Linked DNA regions of Homo sapiens. The protein of the gene in region 3 purifies or fractionates together with the protein of the main gene of each other region. This does not show direct contact. Each region holds a gene or a part of one and is shown on either strand. Other genes may lie near its edges.

The links.
Region 1: the proteins of MSRB2 (region 3) and CYRIB purify together in Homo sapiens (co-immunoprecipitation; one large-scale study listed by IntAct). This does not show direct contact.
Region 2: the proteins of MSRB2 (region 3) and NIBAN2 purify together in Homo sapiens (co-immunoprecipitation; one large-scale study listed by IntAct). This does not show direct contact.
Region 4: the proteins of MSRB2 (region 3) and PAK3 purify together in Homo sapiens (affinity purification with mass spectrometry; one large-scale study listed by BioGRID and IntAct). This does not show direct contact.

What each region holds. Positions count from the first base shown.
Region 1 is NC_000008.11:130,010,061-130,013,560, forward strand, and holds part of CYRIB (CYFIP-related Rac1 interactor B), read right to left. Parts: intron 1,261-3,500; exon of another isoform or gene 596-1,260; intron 1-595. UniProt on the Homo sapiens protein: Negatively regulates RAC1 signaling and RAC1-driven cytoskeletal remodeling. Regulates chemotaxis, cell migration and epithelial polarization by controlling the polarity, plasticity, duration and extent of protrusions.
Region 2 is NC_000009.12:127,510,074-127,513,573, reverse strand, and holds part of NIBAN2 (protein Niban 2), read left to right. Parts: intron 1-3,240; coding exon 3,241-3,428; intron 3,429-3,500. UniProt on the Homo sapiens protein: May play a role in apoptosis suppression. May promote melanoma cell invasion in vitro.
Region 3 is NC_000010.11:23,102,079-23,105,578, forward strand, and holds part of MSRB2 (methionine-R-sulfoxide reductase B2, mitochondrial precursor), read left to right. Parts: intron 1-2,065; coding exon 2,066-2,166; intron 2,167-3,500. UniProt on the Homo sapiens protein: Methionine-sulfoxide reductase that specifically reduces methionine (R)-sulfoxide back to methionine.
Region 4 is NC_000023.11:111,094,824-111,098,990, forward strand, and holds the start of PAK3 (serine/threonine-protein kinase PAK 3), read left to right. Parts: upstream 1-1,367; 5' UTR 1,368-1,592; intron 1,593-1,719; exon of another isoform or gene 1,720-1,914; intron 1,915-2,566; 5' UTR 2,567-2,633; intron 2,634-2,751; 5' UTR 2,752-2,861; intron 2,862-4,167. UniProt on the Homo sapiens protein: Serine/threonine protein kinase that plays a role in a variety of different signaling pathways including cytoskeleton regulation, cell migration, or cell cycle regulation.

The DNA.
Region 1 (3,500 bases), on a different chromosome or scaffold from region 3:
CACTGTCCTTCCCCCACCTTCTTATCAAAGGATGCTGGTGCTGGGAGGGGGAAAAGACAGAAAGAGGATTAGTCTCTGGCATGGTTTATGTTGATTTCAAAGCTGTCACTTTTCCCACATTGGGCCTTCTTTTTCACTGTGGATTTAAGTGCCTAGTCCCCTGATGAACGAAGGTCAAGGGCAGAGGTACATTTTGAACTAGAGAAAGTCCTCAGCATCCTCCTGCTCTCACAGCCTTACTGCTAAACACAGCAGTGGATGCAGAGGGTGGCACTGTGGAGCGGTGAGCAAAAACCAGGCTCAGGAGCCAGAGGCCTAGGTTCCAGTCCTGACTGTGCCTCTTGGTCAAGATGCTTCCCCCCAGGAGGTCCCAGTTCCCTTGTGTGTTAAAATTAGAGTACTGGATGCTTAGGCCTGAAACTCTGAGTATGGGGTTTCTGCTCAGTCCTTCAGCTCACACTGCCTCTCCTCCCCCGCTCCCTGAAGGCAGCCCCATCTCAATGGCTCACAGCATCTAGGCCCTCCTGGGCTTATTCAGCACCTGCTGGCAGACAGAGGTGGTCTCTCTCCCACCCCTTCCTGCTCCCACTGTCACCTGTCCTGAGGTCCATCCTAGGCCTTTGTCACTTTGTCATATGTGTGTTTTCGCATGCATGCCTCCTCCTCTAAGCTAACTTGGAAACCTCCAGGGTCATGTAGAGATTTGCACCATCAGCATCAGCCTGGCTCCTGAATGAATGAAGGGGAGAGGGTCAGGTTGGATGATCTCCTGGCCCACTGCACTCAAAGTATGGTCTACAATCCAGAGGCATCGCATCATGTGCAAAAGTGTTCAAAATGCAGCATCTCACCCTGCCCCAGCCCCTGCTCAGAACCTCCGAGGCAATCCCCACGTGATGCGCAGCACACTCAAGTTTGGAAAGTTCTCTTCCAACTCCTCCCTCCCTTGCTTCTACCACCTAGAAGCCTCCGGAACTATGGCCTTAGCAGGTCTCACTAAAACATAGCCCATCATTAACCAAAAGAGATCTGCCTTAGGAACCTTCTAGAAGCCCGCCACTGACTCTCACAAGCAGAATCTGAAATGTGTGCTCCCCGGGGGGACTCCTGGCACACATTACTCAGTGGCCCTCTCCGACCCTCAAGGAAGCCCAGGAAGCTTTCAAGAACGCTGAGGCGGCCAGGCGTAATGGCTCATGCCTGTAATCCCAGCACATTGGGAGGCTGAGGTGGGTAGATCACCTGAGGTCAGGAGTTCGAGACCGGCCTGGCCAATATGGGGAAACCCTGTCTCTACTAAAAATACAAAAATTAGCCTGGTGTGGTGGTACGCGCCTGTAATCCCAGCTACTCGGGAGGCTGGGGCAGGAGAATCGCTTGAACCCGGGAGGCAGAGGTTGCGGTGAGCTGAGATCATGCCATTGCACTCTAACCTGGGCAACAAAGCAAGACTCCATCTCAAAAAATAAAAATTAGGCTGGGCATGGTGGCTCACGCCTGTAATCCCAGCACGTTGGGAGGCCGAGGCGGGCGGATCACAAGGTCAGCAGATTGAGACCATCCTAGCAAACACGGTAAAACCCCATCTCTACTAAAAATACAAAAAAAAAAGAAAGAAAGAAATTAGCCAGGCATGGTGGCGGGTGCCTGTAGTCCCAGCTACTCGGGAGGCTGAGGCAGAAGAATGGCATGAATCCGGGAGGCGGAGCTTGCAGTGAGCCGAGATCGCACCACTGCACTCCAGCCTGGGCGACAGAGCGAGACTCCATCTCAAAACTAAAAATAAAAATAAAAATAATTAAAAAAAAAAAGAACGCTGAGGCCTGGCAGAGTCAGACAGACTGGCTGCCCACTCACCCACACGGATCCCATGTCCACGTTCAGAAAGCTCTCTTCCCTCATTTCTCTACTCTTGACATTTATTCAGCTTGTAAAGAAAAGGATCCTTTCCAAAACACGTCTTCAGTTTTTTAATAAACCCCGCAATTCCTTTAATGATTTCAGATTATCTTAAATATTTATAAAAATCACTCTCAGCAACACTTCTTTAAGCAAACCTCCTCATCAACTTCGATTATTTATATATTTATGAACACGATGTTCAAGGAGCAGATGGCAGCTAGTAAGTCCTCCAAAAGAAGGAAAAAAAAAATCAATGGGACAGAATGTAAGCTCCATGACTCGTCCATGTACTCTTCTCGACAAGCTCTGGTACAATTATCTTTCCATTCAGCGGAAGCGCCACACAAAAGTCCACAATTGGTTTAAAATAGCACACTTGGACTTCATAAAGCTTGGAGGCTCCAAGTTTAATCCAGGAATGACCTGCCAGCCAAGGGCTCTATTCCCAAAGGAAACTGAAGCTCTGTCAGGGGAGGGTAAGACATTGGATGCAGGGACAGATGATGGGACCAGGGGAGGGACAGAAAGAGCACCAGGGGCTGAGGGAAGAAACAGACATTGCTGAGCACCTCTAGGTGCCATGCTCTCTGCTGGGCACTTTCCATACAACCTCTGGGTTGATCGTCACAGCAACACTTCCAGGTGGCGACTGTTAGTCCTCATTTGAAAGATGAAGAGAAAGACAAAGAGAAAGGAAGTATCTTGGCCAAGGGCACAGAGCTAGTGAGTGGCAGAGCCAGGATGTGAACCCAGGCTGTAGGGCCCCAAAACCTTCACTGCCTCTAGAAAGAGAAAAGGAGGAGAGGAAAAAAAAAATATTGCTCTCAACCTCATGCATCCTAGGCTAACAAAGTTGCCTTTCTTTCAGCCTGGTGAGGCCAATCACCCATTTTAAGACTATCAAAGACTTAATTGCCAAAGTTCTACTGAAGCAAAAGGACCTGATCCATCTGAGAGCCCAGAGAAGGATGAAAAACAAGATTACAAGGCGTCCGTCTTCAACAGGCCTTTATCAAGTATCCCCTTTAGGGAAGAGAAAAAAAATCAATCCTTCACTCCTCCCACCCGAATTTCCTTCTTTCAAGAAGCTCCAATTCAAGCTAAAACAGAGAGATGAATCTGGCCTTTGAGACGCCTATACGCTTGCTGAGCAAACAGTGATTATTACTGTTGTTGATGATGATAACAATAATCATGGATGGTGATCACTATTATACGGGGTGTGCAATGGGAACAGGGGCCTATGCTAAGGACTTTGCTTATGCTACTGCCAGGAGCAACACATCCCCGTGACACATGCGCCCATTTTACAGATGAGAACACTGAGGCTCCAAGAAGGCAACAAACTTGGTTCCATGCACACGAGCAGTGAGAAAGAAAACCAAGGCATGAATTTGGATCTTACTCTCTTACTCAGGAGCCCTGGGAGACCAACGGGGATTCTTTTGCCTGTTTAGAGATGAGGAAAAGAGGGGGCCGAGAGTGTAGTGACCTCTAGAAGGCTGCACAGCCAAGAGATAGTGAAGGTGTGTCTGATAAAATTCATACTTAAAATCTGAATTTTCAGCTATACAACACTTCCTTTACAATGCTCAGTG
Region 2 (3,500 bases), on a different chromosome or scaffold from region 3:
TCACTCTCATCACCATCTTGGTTTTGGTGGGTTTTGGGCCACCTTCTTTACTGCAACCTGTTTTATCAGCATGGTCTTTATGACCTGTATCTTGTGCCGACCTATCTCATCCCATGACTTAGAATGCCTTCACCGCCTGGCAGTGCAGCCCAGTAGGTCTCAGCCTCATTTTACCCAGCTCCTATTTAAGATACAGTTGCTCTGATTCAAATGCCTCTGACATTTCTACTTTTTGTGCCCATTAACCATTCCCATCTCCCCCTCGCCCTCGACTACCCTCTCCAGCCTCTAGTAACCATCTTTCTACTCTATCTCCATGGGCTCAATTGCTTTGTTTTCTGCTTGTTTATTTGTCTGTTTTTACCTTTTTTATTGCTCCCACAGGGGAGGCCCCCTCCAAAATGTCAATTTGCTTTAATTTTTAGATCCCACAAATAAGTGAGGACATGTGATATTTGTCTTTCTGTGCCTGGCTGAATATAATGACCTCCAGCTCCAACCATGTTGTTGCAGATGACTGAAACTCGTTCTTTTTTACGGCTGAATAGTACCCCATCGTGTATATGTACCGCATTTTCTTTATCCATTCGTCTGTTATGGACACTTAGGTTGCTTCCAAATCTTGGTTGTTGTGAACAGAGCCGCAACAAACACGGGAGTGCAGATATCGCTGCGATGGGCTGATTTCCTTTATTTGGGTATATACCCAGCAGTGGGATTGCTGGATTGTGTGGTAGCTCTATTAGTTTTTTGAGGAACCTCCAAACTGTTCTCCATAGTGGTTGTACTCATTTACATTCCCACTGTGAACCCTGAAAATTTGAGGCAGGTCTCAGTTAAATTAGAAAGTTGATTTTGCCAAGTTGGGGACACGCACTCGTGACACAGCCTCAGGAGGAACTGATGACATGTGCCCAGGTGGTCAGAGCACAGCTTGGTTTTATACATTTTAGGGAAACCTGAGCCATCAATCAACATACGTAAAATGGGCCGGGCACAGCAGCTCAAGCTGTAATCCCAGCACTCTGGGAGGCCGAGGCGGGTGGATCACTTGAGGTCAGGAGTTCGAGACCAGCCTGGCCAACATGGTGAAACCCCGTCTCTATTAAAAATACAAAGCTTAGCTGGATGTGGTGGCGCATGCCTGTAGTCCCAGCTGCTCTAGGAGGCTGAGGCATGAGAATTGCTTGAACCTGGGAGGCAGAGGCTGCAGTGAGCCGAGATCGAGCCACTATACTCCAGCCTGGTCAACAGAGTGAGACCCTGTCTCAAAAAAAAAAAAAAAATGTAAAATGAACATGGTTCAGTCCGGAAAGGCGGGAGAACTTGAAGGAAAAGCAGGACAACTCAATGCAGGCATGAGGCTTCCAGGTCATAGGAAGAAAAGAGACAAATAGTTGCATTCTTTTGAGTTGATGATTAGCCTCTCCAAAGGAGGGAAGCAGATATGCATTAATCTCAGTGAGCGGAGGGGTGACTTTGAATAGAACGGGAGGTGGGTTTGCTTTAAGCAATTCCCAGCTTGACTTTTCCCTTTAGCTTCGTAATTCTGGGGGCCTAAGATATTTTCCTTTCACACCACCAGCAGTGTACGGAGGTTCCCTTTTCTCCACATCCTCGCTAGCATTTGTTATTTTCTTTTTTTTGGATAAAGCCATTTTAACTGGGGTGACGTGGCATCTCATTGTAGTTTTGATTTGCAGTTCTCTGATCAGTGATGTCAAGTACCTTTTCATATGCCTGTTTTGGGTTGAGTACCTTTCATATGCCTGTTTGCCATTTATATGTCTTCTTTGGGGAAATATGTATTCAAATCTTTTGCCCATTTTTAATTGGATTACTAGGATTTTTTTCCTATAGACTTGTTTGAGATCCTTATATTTTCTGATTATTAATCTCTTGTCAGATGGCAGTTTTCTTAGTTTTTTGCCATCATGGTTTCAGAAAGATCAGAGTCCAATCTCAGAACACCTTGTCATTTTTCCTGCATGGATTTCTCATCTTTATCCACTATTTCTCTGAAATCATTCAGCTTGCTAATGTTGCCCCCAGTGGTTTTTTTTTTTAAATAATATTGGCCAGGTACGGTGGCTCATGCCTGTAATCCCAGCACTTGGGAGGCCAAGGCAGGAGGATCACTTGAGCCCAGGGAGTTTGAGACCAGCCTGGATAACACAGTGAGACTCTGCCTCTTAAAATAATAATAATAATAAAAGTATTGATGGGGGCTGAGCGCGGTGGCTCACGCCTATAATCCCAGCACTTTGGGAGGCCGAGGTGGGCGGGTCACCTGAGATCAGGAGTTTGAGACCAGCCTGGCCAATATGGTGAAACCCTGTCTCTACTAAAAATACAAAAAAAAATCACCGGGCATGGTGGTGCACACCTGTAATCCCAGCTACTTGGGAGGCTGAGGCATGAGAATCACTTGAACCTGGGAGGCAGTGGTTGCAGTGAGCTGAGATCGTGCCATTACATTCCAGACTGGGCGACAGCACGAGACTCTGTCTCAAAAATTAATAACAATAATAATATGATGGGAAGAGAGAGTTGGGAGAGGGCTGAAAAATTACTTTTTGGGCACTGTGCTCATTACTTGGGTGATGAGATCAATCCTACCCAAAACCTCAGGGTCACACAATGTACCCATGGAACAAGCCTGCAGTGTACCCCCTGCATCTAAAATAAAAGTTGAAATAAAAATGATAATAATATTAGGAGGCTGAAGTGGGAGGATTGCTTGAGCCCAGGAGTTTGAGGCTACAGTGAGCTTTGATTATTCCACTGCACTCCGGCCTGGACAACAGAGTAAGACCCTGTCTCAAATAAAATAATAATAGGCCGGGCATGGTGGCTCATGCCTGTAATCCCAGCACTTTGGGAGGCCGAGGCGGGTGGATCACGAGGTGAGGAGTTTGAGACCAGCCTGACCAACATGGTGAAACCCCGTCTCTACTAAAAATATAAAAATTAGCTGGGCACAGTGGCACGCGCCTGTAGTCCCAGCTACTCAGGAGGCTGAGGCAGGAGAATTGCTTGAACCTGGGAGGTGGAGGTTGCAGTGAGCTGAGATCGCGCCACTGCACTCCAGCCTGGGCGACAGAGCGAGACTCCGTCTCAAAAAAAATATAATAATAATGATAATAATAGTAATACAGTAGCCTCCAGCACCTGGGCTCTGGGATGGCTGGGAGGTGCTCCTTGGGGAGCCCCTGCTGACCCGGCTCCCTCGGGGCACAGCCTTCATCCTCCCCAAGGCAGAGGTGTGCGTGCGGAACCATGTCCAGCCCTACATCCCATCCATCCTGGAGGCCCTGATGGTCCCCACCAGCCAGGGCTTCACTGAGGTGCGAGATGTCTTCTTCAAGGAGGTCACGGACATGAACCTGAACGTCATCAACGAGGGCGGCATTGACAAGCTGGGCGAGGTGAGGCCGGCACCGCCCCTAGGAGGGGGTCTCCTGAGAGTAGGTCTGGTCTGTCCCAGAGGGCCCCGGCTG
Region 3 (3,500 bases):
AAATCTCATAGAGATGCAGTTCCTTTCTAGATTCATGTGCTCTTCCCCATCTCTCTCCCCAACACTGAGACACACACGCGCAAACGTACACTCACACACTCACACTTACTTATTTATATTTCTCTTGCTAAACCATTTGAGAGTTGCAGACATCATGACACTTTACTGCTAAATATTTCGGCATGTTTCCTAAGACCAAAGATGTTTTCCTACAAAACTGCAAGACAGTTTTCCTCTCAGGAAATTGAGCACCCTTGTCTAATACACAGTTGATATTCAAATTTCCCACCATATACCAACAATGTCTTTTATAGCTCTTGTTTTTTTTTCTGGGATCTAGAATTTAATAAAGGGTCACACATTGGTTTTAGTTGTGGACAGTCCTTCTTTTGAATAATTTCCCTCAATTTTCACTTATGTGATTTTTTCTTCATGAGACACTGATTGAATGTTTTCAGCAGGAAAACTTTACTGGTGATGTTGTGTCCTTTCCAGAGCATCACATCAGGAAGACAGGATGTCACTTGTCCCACTGTTGGTGATGCTAACTTAGCCTACTTGGTTAAAGTAGTGGCATTTTCTTTTTTGTAATTAATAAACTTTGGGGTTGTATTTTGAGAAGATGTGACTATCTGTTCCCCAGTAGTCTTTCACCCAGGGGTTTTAGAATCCTCTGATGATTTTTACAAAATGGTGATTTTAAAAATTCTATACTTCCTTCTTCATTTATTACTTGACATTCTGCGTGATAACTCTGAAGGCCATTGAGCAATAGTAATTATCACATAAATACATTTTGTTTTGTTCCCAAAGTGTCGAATACCCCAAAAATCATGTGTTAACTGAGGTATATTCCATAGGAATTTCAGAGATCTATTTTCATAGCAAAAAGAAACCCCTGTAGTCTTATAAAGATTGTATTTAATAAAAGATACCTCCTAGGGGAGCCCTTGTGTAAAAATAATAACAGTAATAAAAAGAAAGAAGAAAACTTTTAATATATTAAATAGCCTAAAAACCTTTTAGCAAAATGTAAGCAATCAACTATATGTATCACTGGAAATGCAGTATTGTTCAGTATTATAAACTGGAGAGGAGATAAGTCTTTTCTTGCCGAAGGATAATTTAGGACTTTTTTTGTAACCTAAAATGAATTTCAACTGTAACTTCTGACGTGTTTGATATATAGGTGCTGGCATCACGGGCATTCAACGTTTCATCTTCAGTGCCATAGTCAGATTACTAACCCTTTGGGCCTCTGTTTCTCATCTGCAAACTGAAGAGTTGGACACATTATAAAATCCTTTCAGATTCTTAATGTTGGATGATTAAAAACATTTATTATAGGAGTTGGGCTTCCTACTCCCTTTGGCTAAAGAGAGTATTGCTCTAGTTACTTGGTTTACACTCACGTGAATAAATGTAGTAATATAGATGCCAAGGTGAGTAGGAAAGAAGAAAACAAAATATGGACAAAAACCATGAAGCATCATAATAGATTATGGTAGGTCTGTTTCTCTTTCAGGACTATATGCTATGGGAGTTTCTTCTTTTGTTCCATGCAAGAAGATTTTTAAAATAGAGACCTCCCTTGACAAAGAAAATCAGAGATATCCTTATAAACTAGCAAGGGAGAAGAGTTTAATAACCGACTAGCTCACAGTTCTTTTCTGCCCAATGCCTCAACTACTTCTGGCTAGATTCTGACAGCAACTGCTCCTCTAAAAGTCATCAGAGAAGAGAGGATCAGTTTCTACCCTTAGGTACCCGAAGGGAATGTATTCCGCATTCTTTCATATTTCAGCTGCCTCTTTCACTTCTGTGCCCCAGGAAGACTAGAAAACTGGCTCTCTACTTCTTGTTAATTTCTTATTAAATTAAATAGTCAATGAAGGCATTTTGTGCCTGAGCCTTCTGGTCCCCATGAAGAATAAACTCGTGGGAGAGAGAGGAAGGGACTGGATTATTCTGCTGGGTGACAGTACACTTAGGGAAAAAGGTCAAGGAAGAAAAGTCCATCAGGCATTTTTGTTTTAATTTTTAAAATTCCTGTTTAACAATACAGGGTCTCTTGCAACGTGTGAGCTGCCTCTTGCCAAGAGTGAGTGGCAAAAGAAACTAACCCCGGAGCAGTTCTACGTCACAAGAGAAAAGGGAACGGAACCGGTAAGCTAAGCTGGTTTACAGTTTTCTGATTGCATGTGTTGGCAGTGAGGGGCCAGTTGGAATAGGTCCAGCTATGAAACCCAGCTGCCCAGCAACACTCCACAGGCCTGGTCTTCCTCTTCCATTGTGCCCTTCTCGGGGTGTTGATATCCATCGAGTTGTAGAAACCTGAAACTTTTCTCTGGACACAGCATCTCTATTCTGACTCCTAAATAACCTTCCTGTCATTTCACTTCCATGCACCGCTGTCACCTCCCCGTGGGGCCAAGTCACCATCACCTTCTCTGTGCATGGCCATTCTTGCTCCAGCCAACCCATTCTCCACACTGCAGCCAAAGAGTTCTTTGGAAAACACAGATCTGACCATATCACTCCCCAGCTCAAAACCTTTGGTGGCTGCCCAGTGCTTTCAAGGAAAAAGAAAAGTATGAGATGGCTAATAAGGTCCTAACGGCCCCTGGCTCCCACCCCTATCCTCAAATCCAGCCATCTTCCCTCTTGACACGGTACTTTGGCCACACCACCCTTGAGCTCTCACATGCCCTGGGCTCCCTTCTCTTTTAAGGCCTTTGCACCCAGCTTTCCTTCTTCTCTCCCGTCATCCCTCCCCACACTCTCCACCCATTCATTCAGACCTACCTTGTAGCTCTCGGCCCAAATCTCACTTTCTCTGGCAAACCTTCTCCTAGCCCCCAGCTAGGGTTGCTTCTAGCAGAACTCTTCCTTCATAGCATTTGCCATCACTGCTGTAACCCCTGGCACCTAACGTGGTGGCTGGCCTAGTAGGCATCCGAAAAATCAACTTTTGTGAATGTTGAATGACTGCCGGGTAAGAGGTGGAAACATTATTTAAACTGCATTTGGCAATCTCAGCTTTCATTCATTTTCTGAGAGAACAACCCTCAGTGGTTCTTCATTATAACACCACTTTTTACAGTGCTACATTTATCTCTCTCTCTCTGTGTGTCTGTGTGTGTGTGTGTGTGTGTGTGTGTGTGTATACAAGTTTCTGGGGTACTTGAGAAAATTTGTTACACATATATAATGCATAGTAATCGAGTCAGGGTATTTAGGGTGTCTGTCACCCGAATACAATACATTTTTGTTAAGTGTCATCCTCCTACTCTGCCATCAAACACTGAGTGTATTCCTTTTCTCTTACTGTATGTTTGTGGACTTTAAGCCACTCCTCTTCATCCTCCCCCTACCCCCTGCTTTCCAGGGTAGGAAACCCCCTTTCCAGGCTCTGTTATCCATTTTTCCACTCTCTACCTCCATGTGTTCAAATTCTTTAGCTCTCACATATAAATGAGAACATAGTGCCGCGTTGCTTA
Region 4 (4,167 bases), on a different chromosome or scaffold from region 3:
GATTACAGGCGCATGCCACCATGCCCAGTTAATTTTTGTATTTTTAGTAGAGACGGGGTTTCATCATATTGGTCAGACTGGTCTTGAACTCCTGACCTCAGGTGATCCGCCCGCCTGGGCTTCCCAAAGTGCTGGGATTACAGGTGTGAGCCACCGCGTGTGGTCATCTGTAGCTCTTTTGTACGACTTTTACTAAAAGGACCTGGGCAGATATATTAGTTCACTCTTGTTCTTGAAACCTATTTTGTTGGCATTATGGAGAAATTATTGCTGGATGTTACACAGTGTGGAGAAAATTGAATAAAAGTTCACTGGGAAGGGTCATGATCTATTTTGGCCATTTAAGTATGTGAGGATATATTTATCTTTATGAAAATAAATTTGAAAGTAGAAAGAAAAAGTTACTCATAATACTACTAGTTTAACCCAACGGTTACAATTTTATGTCCTCTTCTGATCGTTTTCTGTAGGCATATTTTACATCATTATAATTTGAATGTCCTTATTGTTTTGTATTATTTGACTTTTTATGGCAGCTTACTGTCGCCTTGCTGGGATTCACCATAATTTACATAATCTAGCCAAATCATGGGGAGTATGGATTTTGGAGTAGCAAGAGATTATTTTTGGAGTTAGATTTTATAAAGCTTTGGCCATCTGCAAAAATTTGAACCGTATCCTAAAGACAAGAGAAAGCTTTGAAGGTTTAAGGGAAAGGATGGACAGAGAGAATCGCATTTAAGCTCCATTTGAAGTAGAGTTATTTTTATTTTTTGTATAATTCCTTGCTTTTTGGAATGTGTGTGCTTCATATGCAGAAAAGTAGTTTCCCGATCTAGACTGCCATCTCTTTGAATTCCACTGCCACATCTGTCTCTCTTAGTTTTCTGTGTATTTTAGAGATTCCGTCAGTTTAACCTGCCTGGCTGACAGGTGGTGTCCCAAATCGAAACCGTTTTTTCCCCCGAATAAAGTGTGCCCGTGTAGCTGTACAGATTTCGTCCCCTGAAAATTCATCTGAAATCTCAATTCTCCTGAGGGGAGCAATTAAGGAAGATACATGAACTCTCCCCTCCTCTCCATCCTGTCAGGTGCCCCTCTTTTTTGATGGCCCCACCTCTGTCTAGACAACCCTGACAGTGTAGAAGTTTCCATCTCCTTTCCCTTTCCCTCTCCATGTTCCCTCCCCTTCAGTTTTTTCCCCCTCCCAGGCGCTTCCTGCCTGGAAACAAAAGATTGGTCCCCAGTAGCCCACTCAGGGCGATTTTAGTTTTATGCTCACCATCTGATTGGCCTAGGTAAGGTGCAGAGCTCGGGTGACGTAATAGCAGAGAAGGGCTAGGGAGCGGTTGCCGAGCAGGGGCTCTACCGCGGGCGGGCAGCTGTGCCAGCTAACCGTCTGGGATCTCGCACTGGGGGCTGCAGCTTTTCCCCGCCTCGAGCCAGTGTGCGGGGGCGGGAGAAGAGCCAGGGGGAGCGGGCTGGGCCCGGGGCTGCGGCTGCGGCCGCGGGGCTGCGGCTCCCCAGCCCCGCCAGCTGGAGCGCTCGGAGGTAGAGGAAAGGTCTTGACGGGGTGGCTGGATCCGTGGCAGGTAAATCCCGCGACTAACTGCACCCGGGCTACCGCGGGGGAGGGGGTGGCTGTTGGATGATGCTTTAAGGCTGCTGGGCAGATGTTCTGCCTTTCCGGACCCCCCTCCTGTCCTGTTTGTGCCCCAGCCTCGAGTCTCCTACGTGGCTCCCCGGAGCCCTGAGACCAAGCGAGCAGTTTGCATGATCCCAGTTCGCGGACAAGTGGGTGTGTCAGGGCCGTTCCCAGAGGGCCGGGGCTCCTTCGCTTGGTCAAACCCTAGACTCGTTTACTGGGGCCTGGGCCGCTTGAGGCAAAACCCGCCTTGAAAGCTACGTCAGCCTGTAAGTCTTCCCTTTCACCCCCCCGCCCGCCCCCCTACCCAGCCCCAGTAGCTGTGACAGCAGTTCCCTAGAAAAGGGGAGGGGGTGTGGCCACGGTCTGGCCAAGTCCGGGGTAGAACCCCCCCGCCCCTTACACACACACACACACACACACACACACACACACACACACACGAGGAAAGAGAAAAAGTGACGATTTTCTTAAACGGGCGCCTTCCCCTCTTTCTTTTATTTTTCTTTATCCCCCTCCCCTTTTTTTGGTGGGGGGATGGTAATAACAGGGGGACCCTTTTCTTCTCCTGTGGGGATTGGAATGATGCAATAACGCCCCCAGAAAGCTCAGGGTCCCTGGATTGGCCCTCTCTTTGTCTGGGGAGCAGTGTCATTGGGTCCACTGCCTCTCCTTCTCTCCTGTTCCCCTTAGCTCGCTGGGGGACATTGCCCTCAGTTTGTGAACTGGCTCTGGCAAGATTACTGCCGCACTTTTGGGTGAACTGAACATTTTAGATTCTTACTCTGGCAAGTTTTCCTTCCCTAGGTGGTGGTTAAGGGGTGGGGTGGGGTGGGGGATGGTGGGAAGAGGGGGATGCAGGCAAGGAGAGAGATAGAGGCCCCACTTGTTTTTTTTTTTTTTTTTGGTCCCACCTTTCAGAATCCAGTTCCAGATTCTAGACTTGAGGGTTCTGGGCTGTTGGTCTGTAGAAGCGAAGGAGAGAAGGGTGAGTGGCTTGGCTTTGGGAAGCATGATGGGGGCGGTTGCAGTGCTATTTTTAAAAAACGGCTTTCAGCAGGGAAGCCTTTAGCCATGTTAGTCTTGCTCCCCTCATGGTTTTGCAGACTCAAATCCAGGCCAAGTGTATGGCTGTCTGAGGTATTGGAACAGAAGGAGGTCCATTCCTGTTGGTGACAACACCGTGGCCCTGTTCTGGGATGAGCAAGGTGTAAAGGTCAGTGCGGTTTTCACTGGGCCATTTGCAAAATTATAATTGGGCAAGATCTGTGATTTGGTACTTGAGGCCTCCAATCAGGGGCAACTTTGGGCAAAAAGACTTGATATGGTAATGAATGACTAACAGGCAGAGGCTTGGAGAGAGAGCCATTTGTAAGCCTCTGTTTCTGGATACAAGTGTCATATCCCCCAGCCCATGCAAGAAGCAAAATGGGAAGAGACTAGGAGGTAGCCTGGGCAAGAGCTGACAGCTGAGAATCCTGAGGTCAGAGAGACCTTAGGATGTCAAGGAGCTGACCCTGCAAGTCTCCGGACAGGCAGCTGGGCCTTGTAGGAGAGATCTGACAGGAAAAGGAGGTTCACATGCAATAGGGTTATAAGCTAGGGGACACAGGACCCTAGGGACATTCTCACCAGCTAACCATTCCCACAGGTTGCAGAATTTCCTGGTCAGAGGTGGAAATGGTATATAGGGCAAACAAGTTTGCTGAGGTCTTGGGAGAGGGTGAGTGGTGGACATACCAGGTGAGGGAAACGAGAAATAAAAAGAACTGCAGGGATGGGAAGGTGCTGACATCCGAGAGTTTGCTATTATGTGTTCAGAGACTAAGCTACTAAATTAAGGTTAAAGAAGGTGGCCAAGGCAAAAAAAAAAAAAAAAATCAGGTGTACAGATCAGATGTAGTAGGCAGGAAGGCAGGAGCAAACTAGAGAGAGAGAGAAGAAAAGTCGTGGCCTTACCAACAACCCAAAAGCCCTGAATTCTCTGGTGAGATAGGCAACTCTGGAGGTTGAGGCAGCTGTAGCTCAGCCAAGAATTAGAAGGATGATTCTAGATATTTAAAATCAACAGCATCCCCACCCACGTAACCCACCTTCAGGAACCAGTAGCTTTAACCAAGAGAACAAGAAACTCAATGAGCAGCAGCCTCAACAACTGGCTCTTTCCTCCTGGGTAAGGAGAGGGCAGTGGGGAAGGACGGTGCCTCAAAGGGAAGTGGAGGCGCTATCAATCTGGCCTAGACAGGTAGGTTGACTGCTTTTACATGGGTGGGCTGGGGCCTGGTCTGGGACCCCTGCTCAAAAAAAAAAAAGAAAAAAAGCCCTCCTTCTCAGGATCCCTGGGGACCCTGTGTGCGCAGGGAACTGTGTAAAACCTTTACTTCGGAAGGTAAGTGCAGCGTTCTAGGCATCTGGGGCGTACTTAAGCCTCCGCTACGCGTCCCCCACCCCCACCCCCACCTGCCGGGGGCTAGGCGTTTCCCTCTGCAGGGCCTGGAATGGACTCGTCTGCCAAGTCGGCA